Homo sapiens: one gene and its partners. The protein of the gene in region 2 interacts with the protein of the main gene of each other region in a biochemical or structural test. Each region holds a gene or a part of one and is shown on either strand. Other genes may lie near its edges.

Region 1 (7,000 bases), on a different chromosome or scaffold from region 2:
GAATCCGGAAGATAGGAGGAATATGGACGTGGGTGGGAACCAACAAATCTCTTACTGAAGAAGCAGAGAACTGGGGAGATGGTGAGCCCAACAACAAGAAGAACAAGGAGGACTGCGTGGAGATCTATATCAAGAGAAACAAAGATGCAGGCAAATGGAACGATGACGCCTGCCACAAACTAAAGGCAGCCCTCTGTTACACAGGTAGGGAGTGACAAGACGGCTATGCTGCCTCAGACTCAGGAAGGGCCACGGTTAAGAGAATACTCAGATTTACCCCATGGAAAGGTGGGGGGATGAGAACAGCTTCTGGTTCATTCTAAAATACATCTAGCCCTCTATATAATCTTGCATCGTGTCACTCCTAAGAATTTTTGGTGTGTAAGATTTGTCCCTGTGCACAAAAGCTATACCCCTAAATCAAGTTACATCAAAATGATAGATCTACGTAGGAAGTACAGAGGAAGAGCTAGACAATCAGTGCCTTTGATAATAAGGCAGGGGAGGAGAAGCTGACAGCTGGGGCCAGTTGGAAACTTAGGCTCACATCACCTCAGTTTTCACATTGTGAAGTAGAGAGTGTGGTGCTGCGTGCTTCCTTCTTGGTCTAACCTTATATAATTTTATATAAAAATTGCACTATCTTTGGTGTATGAATATTTCTGTAAAATCTTCTACAATTCCAAAACAGCCAGCATTTTCCAAGTGATGTTTTAATAATGAACCATAGTTAATTTGGTCTCTTATAAATTGGACTCTACCGTTTTAGCAAATTTGGACTTTTTAATCTTTGATTTCTATAAAGAAAGGGATTGCCAAGAAATAATTGCATGCAGAAATGATTGAGGTCAGGTCATCATTTAACCTTCTCACTCATTAAAAACAAGTAATTTCAAGAGTTTCAAGGTATGCCACTAAGTTTCCTATAAGTGTTACAGAATATTAGTATTGGTAATTTCATTCCAAAAGCAAATAAATGCCTATGACTATATGCTTAGTGTATTTTATACGTAAAAATTTTAGCATATGATTTTTATGCTATGAATTTACAAATAAACCTTTCCTGATTATTTAAATCATCTCAGACAAAAGGTTATCTATGTCTAAAGAAATGACTTTGAGTACTAAAATGTAATCACATTAAAATATTTTTTTTCTGACCTCCTTAAAGCTTCTTGCCAGCCCTGGTCATGCAGTGGCCATGGAGAATGTGTAGAAATCATCAATAATTACACCTGCAACTGTGATGTGGGGTACTATGGGCCCCAGTGTCAGTTTGGTAAGTCTCTTTCCTTTCTTTGCTTCTTCTTAGGTAAAGTCACAGGAATCATTATAGCTTATCATGAAGCTGGTTGGAACAAAATGATACTAGCCACTCTGAGAAATGGGAAGTTTTGATCAGAAAGCTCTGCTTTCACAATATTGTTACCTTTCCGTAAAGATTTCATAAGTCAGCATGAAGTTTCGACTCACTTCTCAACAAGTCTTTTTGAGTACCACAAGAAGCACAGTGTTGGGATAAAAGCTGTCAGGGTTACCATAAGGAATTAGCATGGTAGATTCCCGCTCTCAAGAAGCTCACGATCTAATGAGCTTGTTAGATTAATTAGAACTCTAAGGTCTGGAAGAAACTATGCCATTTATCATTAGGAGGCTGAGTTACCCAGAAAGTATCTTGCTTTTTCCTTCTAGTAGTTCCTTTCCTTCTTGCAGTTCTCCACACTTAACACATGTGCTCTGTAGCACACTGACTTTGCTGGTGGCCTTCTCTCTCATTTTGCACATGGCCAAAAAACATGTCATCTTTAAGACATTGTTCAAAGACAGTTTCTTCTAGGAAGCTTTCTTAGTTCTGATAGCTCCACATATTTCTTCCTCATTTCTCCCACTTATGTTGAAGTCATCTGTTCACTTGTCCGTCTCCTCTGGTACTGAAAACTTCTTGAGATCAGTAAGTGTCCTATTTATCATTGCATCTTTGGGATCCACAAAATGCCTGTATATATGAGGCACTTGCTTGTGAGCCTGAATTGAATTGGACAATTTAATTTTTTAAAAAAGCAATGTTTGTAAACAATAAAGAATTAAAACCAAAATACATTTAAATGTCAACCAACTGAAATAGATCTATAGATCTAACTCATTTCACTTGATCCCTGGGCCATGACTCCTTCCTAATACTTTACCCTCACCCCATTTTTGAACTCTATTTTTTAACCCTTATGTTATTGGTATGCCTATTTTACTCATTTTTAATTATTGGTATGCCTATTTCACTCATTTTTAACATTTTACTTTTCTTTGTCTTGGTTTCTCTCATATCACTCTTTTCTCATTCTTTCTACCTGTGATCATTTCTCCTGAGATCCTTCATGAGCACTTATCCAGGACCATAAACTACTATAATTTCTCAGCTTTTGTCTTTTGTATATTGCTCTTCTGACTCTAATCTACATGTATCCTTTGGTCAAACTTACTGACTTTTGCGGACTCACAAATCTATGTGATCTTTGGACTGATAAGCCTATCTCCAGCTCTGAACTCAAATATGCTAAGGATGTCCTTTGGGATGTTTAAAAGACTATAAAACCAATTGTTCCCAGTCAGCTTTTCTCTTCGTATTTCTTATCTCAGTATGTGGAATCACCATTTACATGGGCACCCTGGTATGAGACTCTCTTAACTCCCCCAACATTTATGCAGGGTAACATTCTACCAATTTTTACAACTTAGTGTTTTTCTAATTTGTCTTCCACTTGTCAACTCTACTACCATTGCCGTCATTATCTTTCTTCTAGATTCTTGCAATAGTTTATTAGATGAGTTCCACAATTTTAAATTAGCTCCCCTCAAATACATTATTCATACTACAGGGAGACTGATCAATTAAAAGCAATTAAAACACATCACACATACATGACAATCCACCCATTAATTTCTACCTACCATTTTGTCCTACAGGGTGAAATCTAAGCTCTTCAAGCCCCAGAGTAATGCTTGATATATAATAGATACTCTTTAAATCAATGAAAAAAGATAACATTTTCTCTTAGTTCCCATGTTTCTCCCTAATCTCATCTCATATAGTTTCCAAATACAAAAATTCTTCTGATTCCTTGAGTCCATTCTTCCTTGAAGTCTCTAGAGCAAGGTAGCAATAATGGCTTAAATTTGACAGATGAGGAATAAGACATGAAAGTTGTACTGTTTACTAAATGGCATGGCAGGGTCTAAAATGTGAAAACTTTGATTTCCAAGTCTTAAATTTACCTATTGTACCACCAATCAGAACAGGGAAATAGATACAGTTTCTGGAGAGGGTTGTCAAAATCAAAAGAGTTAAAATTCTGGAACTGAGCTAGAATAGAAGACAGAATTGAGGTCAAAATGCTTCCTAGACTTTTATATTCTCTCCTTGCAAAGAAGGCTTATTATGGAGACCCACTCTTTCTCTGAACATCTTGCTCCCAATACTCTAGTAGACTCAGGGGCTCTGATGTGATAGTTATTTCCCGACTAAGCTGGTCATTCCCAGTTACACCTATTTGGCTTTAAGGATTCTCACTACAGATAATGCTGAAGATAATAATATGAAGACTAGCTAATGTTTACTTAGAATTTCTGATGAGTCAGGCTTTGTTCTAAGGTCCTTGACTTATGCTAATTGAATTACATTTAGTTTCCATATCAATTTGATAAAGATAACACAATTTCATTATTCCTCTTATATAGATGAAGAAACTGAAGTTGGAGGGTTCAAGTAACCTTGTTTAAAGGCACATGGTTATCAAGTGGCAGGGCTAGGATTCAAATCCAGGCGTCAGTTCCTCTTAACTCTTCCCCATACTGTTTCTTTCCCTATTGAAGTGATTCAGTGTGAGCCTTTGGAGGCCCCAGAGCTGGGTACCATGGACTGTACTCACCCTTTGGGAAACTTCAGCTTCAGCTCACAGTGTGCCTTCAGCTGCTCTGAAGGAACAAACTTAACTGGGATTGAAGAAACCACCTGTGGACCATTTGGAAACTGGTCATCTCCAGAACCAACCTGTCAAGGTGAGTAACTTCAGACTAGAGGTTTTGTCATGCAATCCTGGGCTTACAGTCAGAACATTCAGTAGAAGTTTGCTGAGAAGTCAAACTTAGGAGCCTAATTTAACCTAACTTTGTTTAACCTACTGTGATGTTTCTCAAAGGACTTATTCTAACTAAATTTTTTTGAAAAACCTCCCAAACAAAAAGTAAAAACCAAATACCCCTGAAGCCATCTCCCAGTGTGTAACATGACTTATAGCAATACAGCATGGTTATACTGTGTTTTTTATTTTTCTCATTGCCATTGCATAAATAATGTCTTGTTGAACCTCAGTTACATTTTGGTTCTTCTCCTCTCAATAACACCTGTTTTATGTGGTGTCCTACTTAATACCAACCAGTTTCCTTCCCAGGGTAGTGGAGGTCTTTCTTGGTTGTTTTATTTGGCTTATTCTTAAAATCACTTTTACTTTTCCTCATGCATAAACTTTTAGGAGAATAACAACTGAAAAACAAAAACACAATCTCTTGATCTTTTCAAGTTTGAAATAAGGTAGGTTTTTTTTTTTTTTTCATTTTTAACTGCCAACCTTATCTCCATATGGGAGAAAACCAATGTCATCTGAACTTACGAAGTTTTGGTTAACTTTTCTACAAGTATGCTCCTGATGCATTAGTTTAAGTAGTTTAATTCTTAGAAGTGCTATCAAAATCCCTTATTGAAATTATAAAACTGTCAACCCACCTACTGGAATTTACGGAAGTTGGACTTGCTTCAGTGAATTGGGATGTTTTTCAAAATGCTTGGGTAGATATCAGAACAGATGAAACGGCAGAGATTCTCTGAGAATATCCCATAAGAGCCCTTGATGCAGAGGCCATATGGCATGGTACTTCCAGCAGAAGGGGAGGGTCACCTTAGCTAGGGCAGCAGCCTGGAGTAGCTACTCCTCTCCCCACAGCTTTCAATGCTTCCTTGCCTTCATCTCTCATTCACCACCCACCATCATTCTCAAGAAAATAAAGCCTGGAAGCAATATCACAAGTAATGTAGTCAGGCAGCTTTGGCTAAAAATCCTTTGCTCAAGGGAGGGTCTCTACTCAGAAATACTGTTTTGTCTTTTTTTTTTTTTTCTTTTTCATTGAAGTGATTCAGTGTGAGCCTCTATCAGCACCAGATTTGGGGATCATGAACTGTAGCCATCCCCTGGCCAGCTTCAGCTTTACCTCTGCATGTACCTTCATCTGCTCAGAAGGAACTGAGTTAATTGGGAAGAAGAAAACCATTTGTGAATCATCTGGAATCTGGTCAAATCCTAGTCCAATATGTCAAAGTGAGTAAGTTTGTCCTGGAAAACTGAAATCTTAACGATGGAGCTGATGGATGAGCAGATATGAGGAAAGACATACATAAACATTTACATGTTGTTTTGCTAAGAATATGTGGCCTAGAAATAAATTTGTATGCTTAACTCACTGTAAAATCTTTGGCTGGTCTTTCCTCCTCCTTTAATGACAATCATTTCCTTTTTTTGTTCTCACCTCTTGCCATCTTAACTCCTAAAATCTGAACTCACTGATTTACTTTTTACCCATTCTTCTATTCCACTACAATCTAACATCTCTGTTAGCCCATTGAAATGCCTGTAAAAGGTCACTAATGACCACCTACTTCCCCAAATAATGGATACTCCTGAATCATCACTAAGCTAATGCCTCCAAAATCTATCTGTATATGAGAAGAATCATGTCTTGTTCATCTTTGTATACCCTCCACCTGACACAGTGCCTGGCAATAGGTGCTAAAGCAAATGCATGTTAAGCTAGCATGTGAAAGAATAGCTACCTGTGTCTGCTCCTGAGACTATCTGCATGGATGACAAAAGTCTTTAAATGGTAGGATCTACAGAAGCTGTCAGAAATGCTGATCTCTGTGTGCTGCGTGCCCAGGGCCAGGGAGTAGAGTGGATGAGCAGAGAGAGGCAGGGAGGCCTTTAGCAGAGGACTGTGTATTAGGCCTATCAGAGACATTTCCCTTTAAGGCCTAGCTAGTGTTCATTTCCTCCTCATCTTCATCAAGCCAACAGGTACCTTCTGTCTGGAGCTCCTGGGAACTTGAGCCTTCTCTCAATCATATATTTGGGTGTGGGGATCAAATCACCTTGAAAAGGTTCATCAAAGTAATGGGAAGAACTAAGGATAGAATCAGACCCTCTGCCAATATGTAAAAAAGTAGATTCCTTCAAATGTTAGTATCAGGAGACAGATTTTTTTTTATACCAGTATTTTCAAATAGAGGCTCCCAAATGAACTTAGTTTACACTTACAAGAGTATCTCTAAACATGCCCTTTTACTTATTCGTGAAGGAAGTAGAGGGAAGTGGTAACTACTGCATTGGAAAGAAATTAGTGCAGGTCCTTGGCATGTAAAAATCAAGTGCTTATTTTTGCACAACTGCTTTAAAGTAAAAGCATTAATGATTTCCTTTGACTGGTGAATTATCCAGTTCAGATCATTGGCTTTTATTTTTCCTGAAGTTGTATTAGGCTTTTAGCTCTTCTCTGTGTTTCAGAGTTCCAGTCATTGAACAAGTCCATGGAGCTAAATACAACGATGACCATTCTTGCCAACATTTTTAGGTGCATTTTCAGGAACTCTATGAACCACAAATCTGGGCATTGAGATTCTGTAGGCATTAGACTAGCAAGGCTGGTCCAGTCTTTGCCTATGCTGTAGACTCATCAGGGGCCTTCCCATGCCAGTTTCCTCATCTGTCAAATGGCATCAAATGGGCTACTACTGGGAGATGTAAGGAGGAAAAAAGTCAAATATCATGAGATAGACTAAGGAAATAATGCTGGTGGTCTCATGCTATGTGCCTTACTGATTTCTCTTTCAGAATTGGACAAAAGTTTCTCAATGATTAAGGAGGGTGATTATAACCCCCTCTTCATTCCAGTGGCAGTC
Region 2 (6,995 bases):
AGAGTCCAAGGAATGGCAAGAAGGCAAGGGTGGCGGTGGGTAGTGAGGCATGTTTTTTTGTTTTTTTGCTTTTTTTGTTTTTGAGATGGAGTCTCACTCTGTCACCCAGGCTGGAGTGCAGTGGCGTGATCTCGGCTCACTGCAACCTCCGCCTCCCAGGTTCAAGCGATTCTCCTGCCTCAGCTTCCCGAGTAGCTGGGATTACAGGCGCACACCACCACGCCCAGCTAATTTTTGTAATTTTAGTAGAGACAGGGTTTCACCATGTTGGTCAGGCTGGTCTCGAACTCCTGACTTCATGATCTGCCTGCCTCGGCCTCCCAAAGTGCTGGGATTACTGGCTGGAGCCACCACGCCCGGCTGGCGTGTTTTAACAAATGTAGGGGAGGTTGGGCTGACTAGGAGGGACAATTAGCTATAAAAGTGAAACCGACCCTAGATAGGTTGTAGACATGCTGCAATATGAATGAACGAGTTTGATTTTCCACTACCTTTCTCCATCTGTCACACGCTAGAAATAGCCTAAAGCACATAAATGAAAATGGAGCAGAGAAAGGGAAATTTTTTCCCCTTTTAATTAAAATTACTGGTTGGTATTCAGTGAACTAGGGTGTGCCCCTGAACACCTTGGCCTTGGTATGAGGAATAAGAAAAGTAACAGAAGGCACCTGGTGACACTACCGAACCTTACCAGGAGACCACACAAATGTCAACCTTGGCCACTTTGCTCAAATTACTCATTTCCTTTTATCTGAGGACCATAAAGGTCTGAGAACAGTGGGCAATTTGTTTGGAGCAAGAAAGGGAACTCAAATGTCAAGAACTCAATCATTGGGTCAGAATAAAGGGTCAATGAGATGAGCATCAGAAAGCCTGGACCCCAATCTTGGCTCAGTCACCATGTGCCCTTAGGTAGGTCTTTCCCTGTAGGTCTCAATAGCCTCATTAGATTTTTGTTTTAGTTTTAGTTTTTTTTTTTAAGAGAGTTGTACTAAATAGTCTCCAAGGTCCCTTTCAGGTTAAGATTCTATGATCTTAACAGACATAATATAGTTGCTTTTCCTAAAAGTTGACCATTCCTTGAGTCAAAGTATAGAAAATTCTCTAATACTTCCAGTCTATCAAAATTCAGCCCTCTCCTTCCAATTTGATTCAGGTTTCAGTCAATCTGCATAAAAATGCCTTCAGTATTTAGGTACCCTCATTACTCCAGGCCTGACTACAAACAGCTTATACTCCATTCTCTCTCCATTCCCAGGAAAACAATAAACACGCTGTCTTGTCTTCTTTGCCACTTTGACTCAGATGAGACGGTTAATGCAAGTTTGAAGCAACTTCCAGGCCCATGAAGCTGTGTTTCAAAGTGGGCTATCTCAGAACTGAGGATGAGATATGCCACTACAGAAGAAAGACCGTGGAGCAATGTCTATTCCCAGAGATCCACCCAACTGTTCAGGCAAAGCCGCACCTTAAGAGGAGTCAGGAGTCAACCACAGAGAGAGACCCAAAGAGCCGCTCCTGACAGGATCTTTATAATCTTGTTTTGGCAGACAATGGGATATTTTCCCCTCTCTCCAAAACCATTACTCTCTCTCTTTGGGGGCGGGGACTAGGGAACAAAGTGTGTAAAAGCCTCATGTCCTAAAACCACAAGCAATTTAAAGGAGATAGACAGTGAAAGCACATACTTTTTGAAAACTTGGTGTTTCTGAAGGACAAGGTTCTGGAAAGGCAAGAACGACTTGGCAGTGAGGCTGGTATACAGTAACGTGGCAACCAAAGCTCATCACAAACCCAAAAGGCTGGGCCCCCAACTCTCCTCCTCTCATCCCAGGGGACCTTCAGCCCTTTTCAAGGCTACTAGTCACTATCTCACCTCTACAAGGCTCAAGCAGTCCTGGGGAGACATGTTTGGGAGCACTGCATTGCCTAGGCCAGCTCAACAAGCTGTTTGGCCTAAGGGACTCAAGCCAGGGTGGTCACCAGGCCTTTCTGAGCAAGGGAAGGGCCTCAGCAGCCATTTGGCATGACTTGCACAAAAGCAAGCAGAGCTCATTAGTCAGGCACACCCCTCCTCCCCTCTCCCTCCTGGGCATCCGGCCCCCCTATCCCCACTCCCAGGAGGCTTCTGTTCCTCTCGTAACAGCCAGTGGGGTGGAGACGCATCCCCAAATCAACCACCACTCTAGAAAGGTGTGGCCCCACGAGAAAACCCACACCACACAAAATAGTCCGGAGGGGATAGGAGGAGATAGAGAGGCATTAAGCAATAGGAGGGGCAGGGATTTGGAGGTGGAGAGGAGGGAGAAACCGGTCCTCTCTCCCAGGAGATGGGGTAGGCCTCTCCTCAGACTGGTGCCTAAATAAGTGTTGGTGCTCTCGGGTGCAGCCTCGATGACGATTTCCTCACATCTCTCTCCTCACCTCCTAGTGGAAAACAGCTGGAGCCACCCGGTGAGGCTGTGGGAAAGATGAGTGGGGGTGCCGGATCCGCCCCGAGCGGCTCCCTCCTTTCTCCCTGCTTCTCTGTTCCCATGTCCCCTCTTGGACATTGGCAGCCTTGCCCCAGAAAGGTGCCAATTCCTGGGTTGGGGAAAGTGTTGTCTTCTGGACCAGAATCCTCTCCTCTGTGCCCATGGCCCATCAGGGAAAAGGGGAAACCCCAGGCCCCAACGAAGCCGTCCTGACTGTTGCATCTCAGACACAGGGAACTGGAACCTGAGAAAGAGGCAGGCCTCGCCCCGTCCAAACTTCCAGCCTGGACACCCCCTCAACCCCTGAGGGCGCACCAGACCAGGATCCCACTCCGGTCCCCTCCCTACCCTTGGCTATGGCGGAGGGCGCGGCGTCCCAGGCGGGCCGGTGGCTGGCCAAGCCCTCAGCCATCAGCAAAGGGCTATGAGGCTCAGCCAGAGCCATTGGGGTCGACAGCGCCCACCTCCGGCACTCACCGTTTTGGGCATGGTGGCGGCAAAGGCAGCGGAGTTGGCGAAGTTTAGCTAGGACTGTCGGGCAGTGCTGAGCACGCAGTACACACGGCTTGGATTCGGCTGGCCGGGGACTCAGATTGGGTCCCTCACTAGCGTCGGGGCGACTGTTAGGCTTCCTGCTAACGGGCCACGACTTCACAAACCCCACCCAGGAAAGAGCCGCCCCTGTCGCGCCGCCCGCTCCTTTATGTGGCCCGGCTTCCGCGCCGCTCCCCGCCCTCGCGCCCGCCTCCCCGCCGACCGCTGGCCTTGCCCCGCCCAGCCCCGCCTGGCCAGGCCCGGCGCAGCCAGGCCACAGCGGCCACGTGGGGGGCCCGGCTGGGCCCGGGCGGACCTAGGGTAGCTACCACTCCCCACCCAGACCCACCCGGCTCCTCTCCCACCCTGGTCACAGCCCCTAGCCTTCCACGTCCTGGCCTTCCAGCCCCACCCCCACTCAGGGCCCAGACCCTGGGCCCTGACAGATGCTTACTCAGCCCCTGACTGCAACTTTCCACTGATGGGGAGCTCACTACCTATCTTTTCCTTCTCTAGACAGCTCTGGCTCTTAGAAAGTTCTTGCCGTGTCTGAACTCCTTTTCTCTATGGCTTCCATCCATGGATCTCAGTTCTGCTCCCTGAGGCCACACAGATCCCCTGTTGTCCCTAACAGCTCCTCAAAGGCCTGAAGATCTCAGGTCCACAGGAAACTTCTCTTCTTTTGGCTAAACTGCCTCACCTCTTAAAACACTTCATCCATTCTCTTCCGTAGGACTCTCCCCATCATATTTCCTACCCATCCTTGCTCAGTCCTCATTTATCTTTCCTTCATCTAAATCCCAGTCTTCACCTTCCTCAAATCAGTGACCTGATCCTTTAGCCCCTCTCCCAGTACATTCACTTTCTGATGTCCTGATGGGGCTGGCTATAATTCCCTCAGGTTAGATGTGACCTCCCTAGTCCACACCCTTGGGGTTTGTCTGCCAGCTCCCTTTCTCCTTCTTGTCAAGGTCACAGAATCCCAGGATGGCAGTGTTCTAGACTGTTGAAGTCGTCTGGTCAAGTCTGAGTTTTAGGCTGAGTGCGGTGGCTCATGACTGTAATCTTAACACTTTGAGAGGCTGATGCAGGAGGATTGCTTGAGCCCAGGAATTCGAGACCAGCCTGGGGAGCATATCAAGACCCCCTCCCATATCTATACAAAAAAAATAAGTGAGAGCCGGGCATAGTGGCTCACTCCTGTAATCCCAGCACTTTGGGAGGCTGAGGCGGGCTGATCACCTGAGGTCAGGAGTTCAAGACCAGCCTGGCCAACATGGTGAAACCCCGTCTCTACTAAAATTACAAAAATTAGCCGGGCACGTGCCTGTAATCCGAGCTACTCGGGAGGCTGAGGAGGGAGAATCGCTTGAACCCGGGAGGCGGAGGTTACAGTGAGTCAAGACTGAGCCAGTGCACTCCAGCCAGGGCAACAGAGTGAAACTCTGTCTCAAAAATAATAATAATAATAGTAAGTGAGACCATGTGCAGTGGCTTACACCTGTAATCCTACCACTTTGGGAGGCCAAGACCTGCAGATCACTTGAGGTCAAGAGTTTGAGACCAGCCTGCTCAACATGGCGAAACCTCATCTCTATTAAAAATGCGAAAAAAAAAAACAAAAAAATTAGCCGGGTGTGATGGCACGTAGTTCCAGGCACTCGGGAGGATGAGGCAGGAGAATCGCTTCCGGGAGGCGGAGGCTGCACTGAGCCCAGATTGGGCCACTGCACTCCAGCCTGGGCAATAGCACAAGACTCCGTCTCCAAAAAAAGTAAAATAAAATAAGTCCGAGTTTTAGTTTGAAAGTGGCTGGCCATAGTCCTTTTTTCCTCCTCTCCACTGGCAACCATGTGAAGGCATGGTCTGAGTATCCTTTGTGAGGTAAGGCACCACAGATGGTAAGCCAGTTTGAGACAATGGAAAGGATACTTGAGAGGTCAGGACACCTGGCTTCTACGTATAGCTCTGCCATTAACTCATCCTATGACCACTATGTGGCCTTGGGTAATTCCCTCCCCCTCTCTGGGCTTGAGTTTCCATTTCTGTAGCAAGAAAGGACTGGACTCCGGGGCTTCCAAGGTCCTTTCCCACTCTGACATTATAAAGGGATGAGAAAGGAAGTATACTCCCTAGGACAATAGATGAGCCTAACAGGATTGCATATGGGCTGGTCTTGCATTTGCACTCAGGAACCAGTAGTCTGATTCCATCCTCTTCCTTTGCCTTCCCAGACCAACAGTGTCCACGATTCAGTGTGCCTCGGTTTCTCTCACTGCTAACAAGATTCATTGATGTGTGCTAGGGTAAACAAAGTTCCCTGCCAAGATCATTTCCTTGAGCTAAGCATTTGTTCAAAGAGCAGCACTCATCGGAAAGCCCAAACAGTCTCCATGAGCAGTTGTCCCCAAGGAAGAGCAGCACTCACCAGAAAGCCTCAGCAGCAGGAGTAGCAATGACAGCTCATCACACGCCTTAATACTGCCATTGGCCCTTTTCCACCAGATGTTCAAGGAACTCAACTGATTTCTTCACTCATGTTCACCTAGAACCTACAGGGACCTGGCATGAAGCTAAATGCCTAAAGACAAAGAATTTACTTGGCGACTCCAACTTTCTGGAAAGTGGAAACTCCCTTGTGTCATTCCCCACCTCCCATGCCAACCACTCCCCACAACACACATACACAGGGGAGAGTTGGGTAGAGAGTGTCAAGTAGCTGAAGACACTACTAAAAGGGAAACAAGGACCAGGTGTGGTGGCTCACACCTGTAATCCCAGCACTTTGGGAGGCTGAGGCAGGCAGATCACTCGAGGTCAGGAGTTCAAGACCAGCCTGGCCAACATGGGAAAACCCCATCTCTACTAAAAATACAAAAATTAGCTGGGTGTGGTGGCATGTGCCTGTAATCCCAGCTACTCGAGAGGCTGAGGCAGGAGAATTACTTGAACCCAGAAGGCAGAGGCTGCAGTGAGCAAAGATCATACCACTGCACTCCAGCCAGGGTGACAGAGCAAAACACTGTCTTAAAAAAAAAAAAAAAGAAAGGGGGCATAGAAGTCCAAGCAGGGGCAGGGGGTGTCAGAGGCTCGGGGAGCTAAGAAATAGGGGGAAAGGGGCTGAGGGAGAAAGATGAGGTTGGACCTCTGGGGAGGAGAGGATGGGAAATAGAGAGAGAGCATAAACTATCAGAGACTAGTTAGTCCAGTCTCACTCCAGGTCAGGAGAACTGGGGATCAGAAAGAGGAAAAGACTTACCCAAGGCCAGATAGCTAATGTACAGAAGACAAAGAGCTCAGTTAAGAAGCTCTGGCAATAGTACAAGCAAGAAATTTTTTAAATATTATTTTCTCATGTTTTATTTTAGATACAGGGGGTACATGTGCATGTTTGTTACATAGATATATTGCACTCAGGTAGTGAGCATAGTACTCATTAGGAAGCTTTTCAACCCATGTCCTCTTCCCTCCCACCTCTAGTAGTTTTCAGTGTCTGTTGTGCCCATGTTTATGTCTGTAGGTGCTCAATGTTAAGCTCCCACTTATAAGTGAGAACATGCGGTATTTGGCTTTCTGTTCCTTCACTAATTCACTTAGGATTATGGCCTCCTGTTCCATCCATGTTGCTACTAAGGACATAATTTTATTCTTTTCTATGGCTGCATAGTATTCCACGGTGTATATGTACCACATTTTCTTTATCCAGTCGACTATTTCTTTCTTTTTTTTTTTTTTTTGAGATGGAGTCTCACTCTGTCACCCAGGCTGGAGTGCAGTGGCGTGATCTCGGCTCACTTCAAGCTCCGCCTCCCGGGTTCATGCCATTCTCTTGCCTCAGCCTCCCAAGTAGCTGGGACTATAGGCACCCGCCACCATGCCCGGCTAATTTTTTTTGTATTTTTAGTAGAGACGGGGTTTCACCATGCTAGCCAGGATGGTCTCGATCTCCTGACCTTGTGATCAGCCCACCTCGGCCTCCCAAAGTGC
Region 3 (3,349 bases), on a different chromosome or scaffold from region 2:
CATGTTGGCAAGGCTGGTCTTGAACTCCTGGTCTCAGGTGATCCGTCCACCTTGGCCTCCCAAAGTGCTGGGATTACAGGCATGAGCCACAGTGCCCGGCCTGAGGCCCAGCGTTTTGTAGGTGTACTGGGGAGGGCACCCAGCCTGGGAGTGTCAAGTCTCCTGTGACTGTGCCGGAGTATCTTGAGAGGCTGCCACAGGGCTGGTGAACCAGGAAAGCCCTGAGTGTCTGAACCTGATTGGAGAGAACTGAATAATCCTGACCTTTTGATCCACCCACCCCGGCCTCCCAAAGCTCTGGGATTACAGGCGTGAGCCACCACGTCTGGCCATAAACAGGAATTTTTAATATTCATATCATAGTCATAAACGTTCATCCCTTCCATCCTCATTTTTTTTTATTGTGCCATCTTTGAGAACAGAAAGTTTTGTTTAGCGCCTTGCAAGGTATCTGACAACACAGGAAATGATAATCACTGCGCTAATGATAATAGCAAACGCTTCGACTGGCCCAGCTCTAAGCCCTCTAAGTTTATTAACTCAAAGCTCACAGTTCTCGGCAGGACCACCCTGTCTCCTCCCCAGTCCCTGGGGTGAGTGGGTGGGTTTGCAGGACCCGCTAAGTGCCATCCTCCCCTCCTCTCTCAGGGCTCCCGGAGCGTGTGGAGCTGGCACCCCTGCCTCCTTGGCAGCCGGTGGGCCAGAACTTCACCCTGCGCTGCCAAGTGGAGGATGGGTCGCCCCGGACCAGCCTCACGGTGGTGCTGCTTCGCTGGGAGGAGGAGCTGAGCCGGCAGCCCGCAGTGGAGGAGCCAGCGGAGGTCACTGCCACTGTGCTGGCCAGCAGAGACGACCACGGAGCCCCTTTCTCATGCCGCACAGAACTGGACATGCAGCCCCAGGGGCTGGGACTGTTCGTGAACACCTCAGCCCCCCGCCAGCTCCGAACCTTTGGTGAGAGAAGGGGCTTCAGACGGTGGGTGACGAGCTGAGCCAGGGTAGACGGTGCCCTGACCTTGGGGTTCCTGAGAGTGGGGTACCCCGGACCTCACAGGCTTCTGGGAAGGAAAGCCCCCGGCCACTGGGCAAGGTGGCCCCGGAAGGGAGGCCCGAGCCGTGGGATCTTTGAAGAAGGCCGTTTTCATGGCCCTGTGTGTGTGTCCTGTGAAGAAGGGTGACCCAGTCAGCAAGATATCCTGACTGGGGGGGATGAGGGTGTCCTGGGGAAGGCACAGTCCTGGGGGTTGTACTATGCCCACCTTTCTCCCCAGTCCTGCCCGTGACCCCCCCGCGCCTCGTGGCCCCCCGGTTCTTGGAGGTGGAAACGTCGTGGCCGGTGGACTGCACCCTAGACGGGCTTTTTCCAGCCTCAGAGGCCCAGGTCTACCTGGCGCTGGGGGACCAGATGCTGAATGCGACAGTCATGAACCACGGGGACACGCTAACGGCCACAGCCACAGCCACGGCGCGCGCGGATCAGGAGGGTGCCCGGGAGATCGTCTGCAACGTGACCCTAGGGGGCGAGAGACGGGAGGCCCGGGAGAACTTGACGGTCTTTAGTAAGAGGAGGCGTGGGAAGGGGGCGCGGCCTCAGCAGTCTGGGGGCGTGGCAGAGGGGGCGGAGACTAGCCGAAAAGGTGGGGCCTGGCTTGCCCCAATAGCAGTTGCAACGTGGGTTGGGCCTGAGTGCCCGAAGCTGGACACAGCGCGGAAAGAGGGCGAGGCTTGAACGGCCGAAAGCGTGGCCCGGATATCCCGAGAGGAAAGGGGAGGGCGGAGGGAGCGGCTTGACCCACAGGAAGGTCCTGTTCATTAAGCTCCTGGGCAATGCCCCGCCTTTAGGCTTCCTAGGACCCATTGTGAACCTCAGCGAGCCCACCGCCCATGAGGGGTCCACAGTGACCGTGAGTTGCATGGCTGGGGCTCGAGTCCAGGTCACGCTGGACGGAGTTCCGGCCGCGGCCCCGGGGCAGCCAGCTCAACTTCAGCTAAATGCTACCGAGAGTGACGACGGACGCAGCTTCTTCTGCAGTGCCACTCTCGAGGTGGACGGCGAGTTCTTGCACAGGAACAGTAGCGTCCAGCTGCGAGTCCTGTGTGAGTCGGTCACCCTGACCTTTAATCCCTCCACCCCTGCCCTGGAAAGATTAGACGCTCCTCTGCACCACTGTGCCTCGGGTGTGTTGGGTGTCTGATCACACATGGTGGTTCCACAGATGGTCCCAAAATTGACCGAGCCACATGCCCCCAGCACTTGAAATGGAAAGATAAAACGAGACACGTCCTGCAGTGCCAAGCCAGGGGCAACCCGTACCCCGAGCTGCGGTGTTTGAAGGAAGGCTCCAGCCGGGAGGTGCCGGTGGGGATCCCGTTCTTCGTCAACGTAACACATAATGGTACTTATCAGTGCCAAGCGTCCAGCTCACGAGGCAAATACACCCTGGTCGTGGTGATGGACATTGAGGGTGAGCTAACACGGGGCTGCGGGTCTGGACCGGTAAGCCGGGGGGCGGGGGGGTTGGAGACAGAAGGGACGCATATTGACTTAGCGCTTTCTCTGCACAGCTGGGAGCTCCCACTTTGTCCCCGTCTTCGTGGCGGTGTTACTGACCCTGGGCGTGGTGACTATCGTACTGGCCTTAATGTACGTCTTCAGGGAGCACCAACGGAGCGGCAGTTACCATGTTAGGGAGGAGAGCACCTATCTGCCCCTCACGTCTATGCAGCCGACAGAAGCAATGGGGGAAGAACCGTCCAGAGCTGAGTGACGCTGGGATCCGGGATCAAAGTTGGCGGGGGCTTGGCTGTGCCCTCAGATTCCGCACCAATAAAGCCTTCAAACTCCCTAATCTGTGGTTTGATTCCACCCGCGCTGCAAGTCTCTCCCACCCAGGTGCACATCCACTGAGTAGCGTCGCTGCGACGGAAGGGGGCGGGGCCTGTGGCGCGCAGACGCAGCTTGAACTCTTGAGAGGTGGGCTGGGGCTTAGCCAACGGGGCAAGGGGGGCGGGAAGGAGGTGGGGTTTCTCCCAGCCAATCGACGGGCGCGCCCTCGTTGCCGCTCTATGCCGCTCCGCCCCGGCTCGCTGGTCCCAGAAGGCGCCGGGTTTCCCAAGATGGCGGCGGACGTGTCCGTTACTCACCGGCCCCCGCTGAGCCCTAAGTCTGGGGCCGAAGTCGAAGCCGGCGATGCCGCGGAGCGCCGGGCGCCGGAAGAAGAGCTGCCGCCTCTAGATCCAGAAGAGATCCGGAAACGCCTGGAACACACCGAGCGCCAGTTCCGTAACCGCCGCAAGATACTGATCCGGGGCCTCCCGGGGGACGTGACCAACCAGGTATTGGGGGGGG

Evidence for each region.
Region 1: the proteins of MSN (region 2) and SELL form a complex in vitro, tested with the Homo sapiens proteins (one study listed by BioGRID).
Region 3: the proteins of MSN (region 2) and ICAM3 form a complex in vitro, tested with the Homo sapiens proteins (2 studies listed by BioGRID).

The regions. Positions count from the first base shown.
Region 1 is NC_000001.11:169,701,621-169,708,620, reverse strand, and holds part of SELL (L-selectin precursor), read left to right. Parts: coding exon 1-204; intron 205-1,171; coding exon 1,172-1,279; intron 1,280-3,867; coding exon 3,868-4,053; intron 4,054-5,180; coding exon 5,181-5,366; intron 5,367-6,932; coding exon 6,933-7,000. UniProt on the Homo sapiens protein: Calcium-dependent lectin that mediates cell adhesion by binding to glycoproteins on neighboring cells. Mediates the adherence of lymphocytes to endothelial cells of high endothelial venules in peripheral lymph nodes.
Region 2 is NC_000023.11:65,663,810-65,670,804, reverse strand, and holds the start of MSN (moesin), read right to left. Parts: upstream 3,152-6,995; 5' UTR 2,964-3,151; coding exon 2,952-2,963; intron 1-2,951. UniProt on the Homo sapiens protein: Ezrin-radixin-moesin (ERM) family protein that connects the actin cytoskeleton to the plasma membrane and thereby regulates the structure and function of specific domains of the cell cortex.
Region 3 is NC_000019.10:10,333,276-10,336,624, reverse strand, and holds the end of ICAM3 (intercellular adhesion molecule 3 isoform 1 precursor), read left to right. Parts: intron 1-648; coding exon 649-954; exon of another isoform or gene 955-1,271; coding exon 1,272-1,559; intron 1,560-1,804; exon of another isoform or gene 1,805-1,842; coding exon 1,843-2,097; intron 2,098-2,216; coding exon 2,217-2,465; intron 2,466-2,565; coding exon 2,566-2,768; 3' UTR 2,769-2,849; downstream 2,850-3,349. Other genes in the region: RAVER1 (ribonucleoprotein PTB-binding 1), read left to right, coding at 3,118-3,336. UniProt on the Homo sapiens protein: ICAM proteins are ligands for the leukocyte adhesion protein LFA-1 (integrin alpha-L/beta-2). ICAM3 is also a ligand for integrin alpha-D/beta-2. In association with integrin alpha-L/beta-2, contributes to apoptotic neutrophil phagocytosis by macrophages.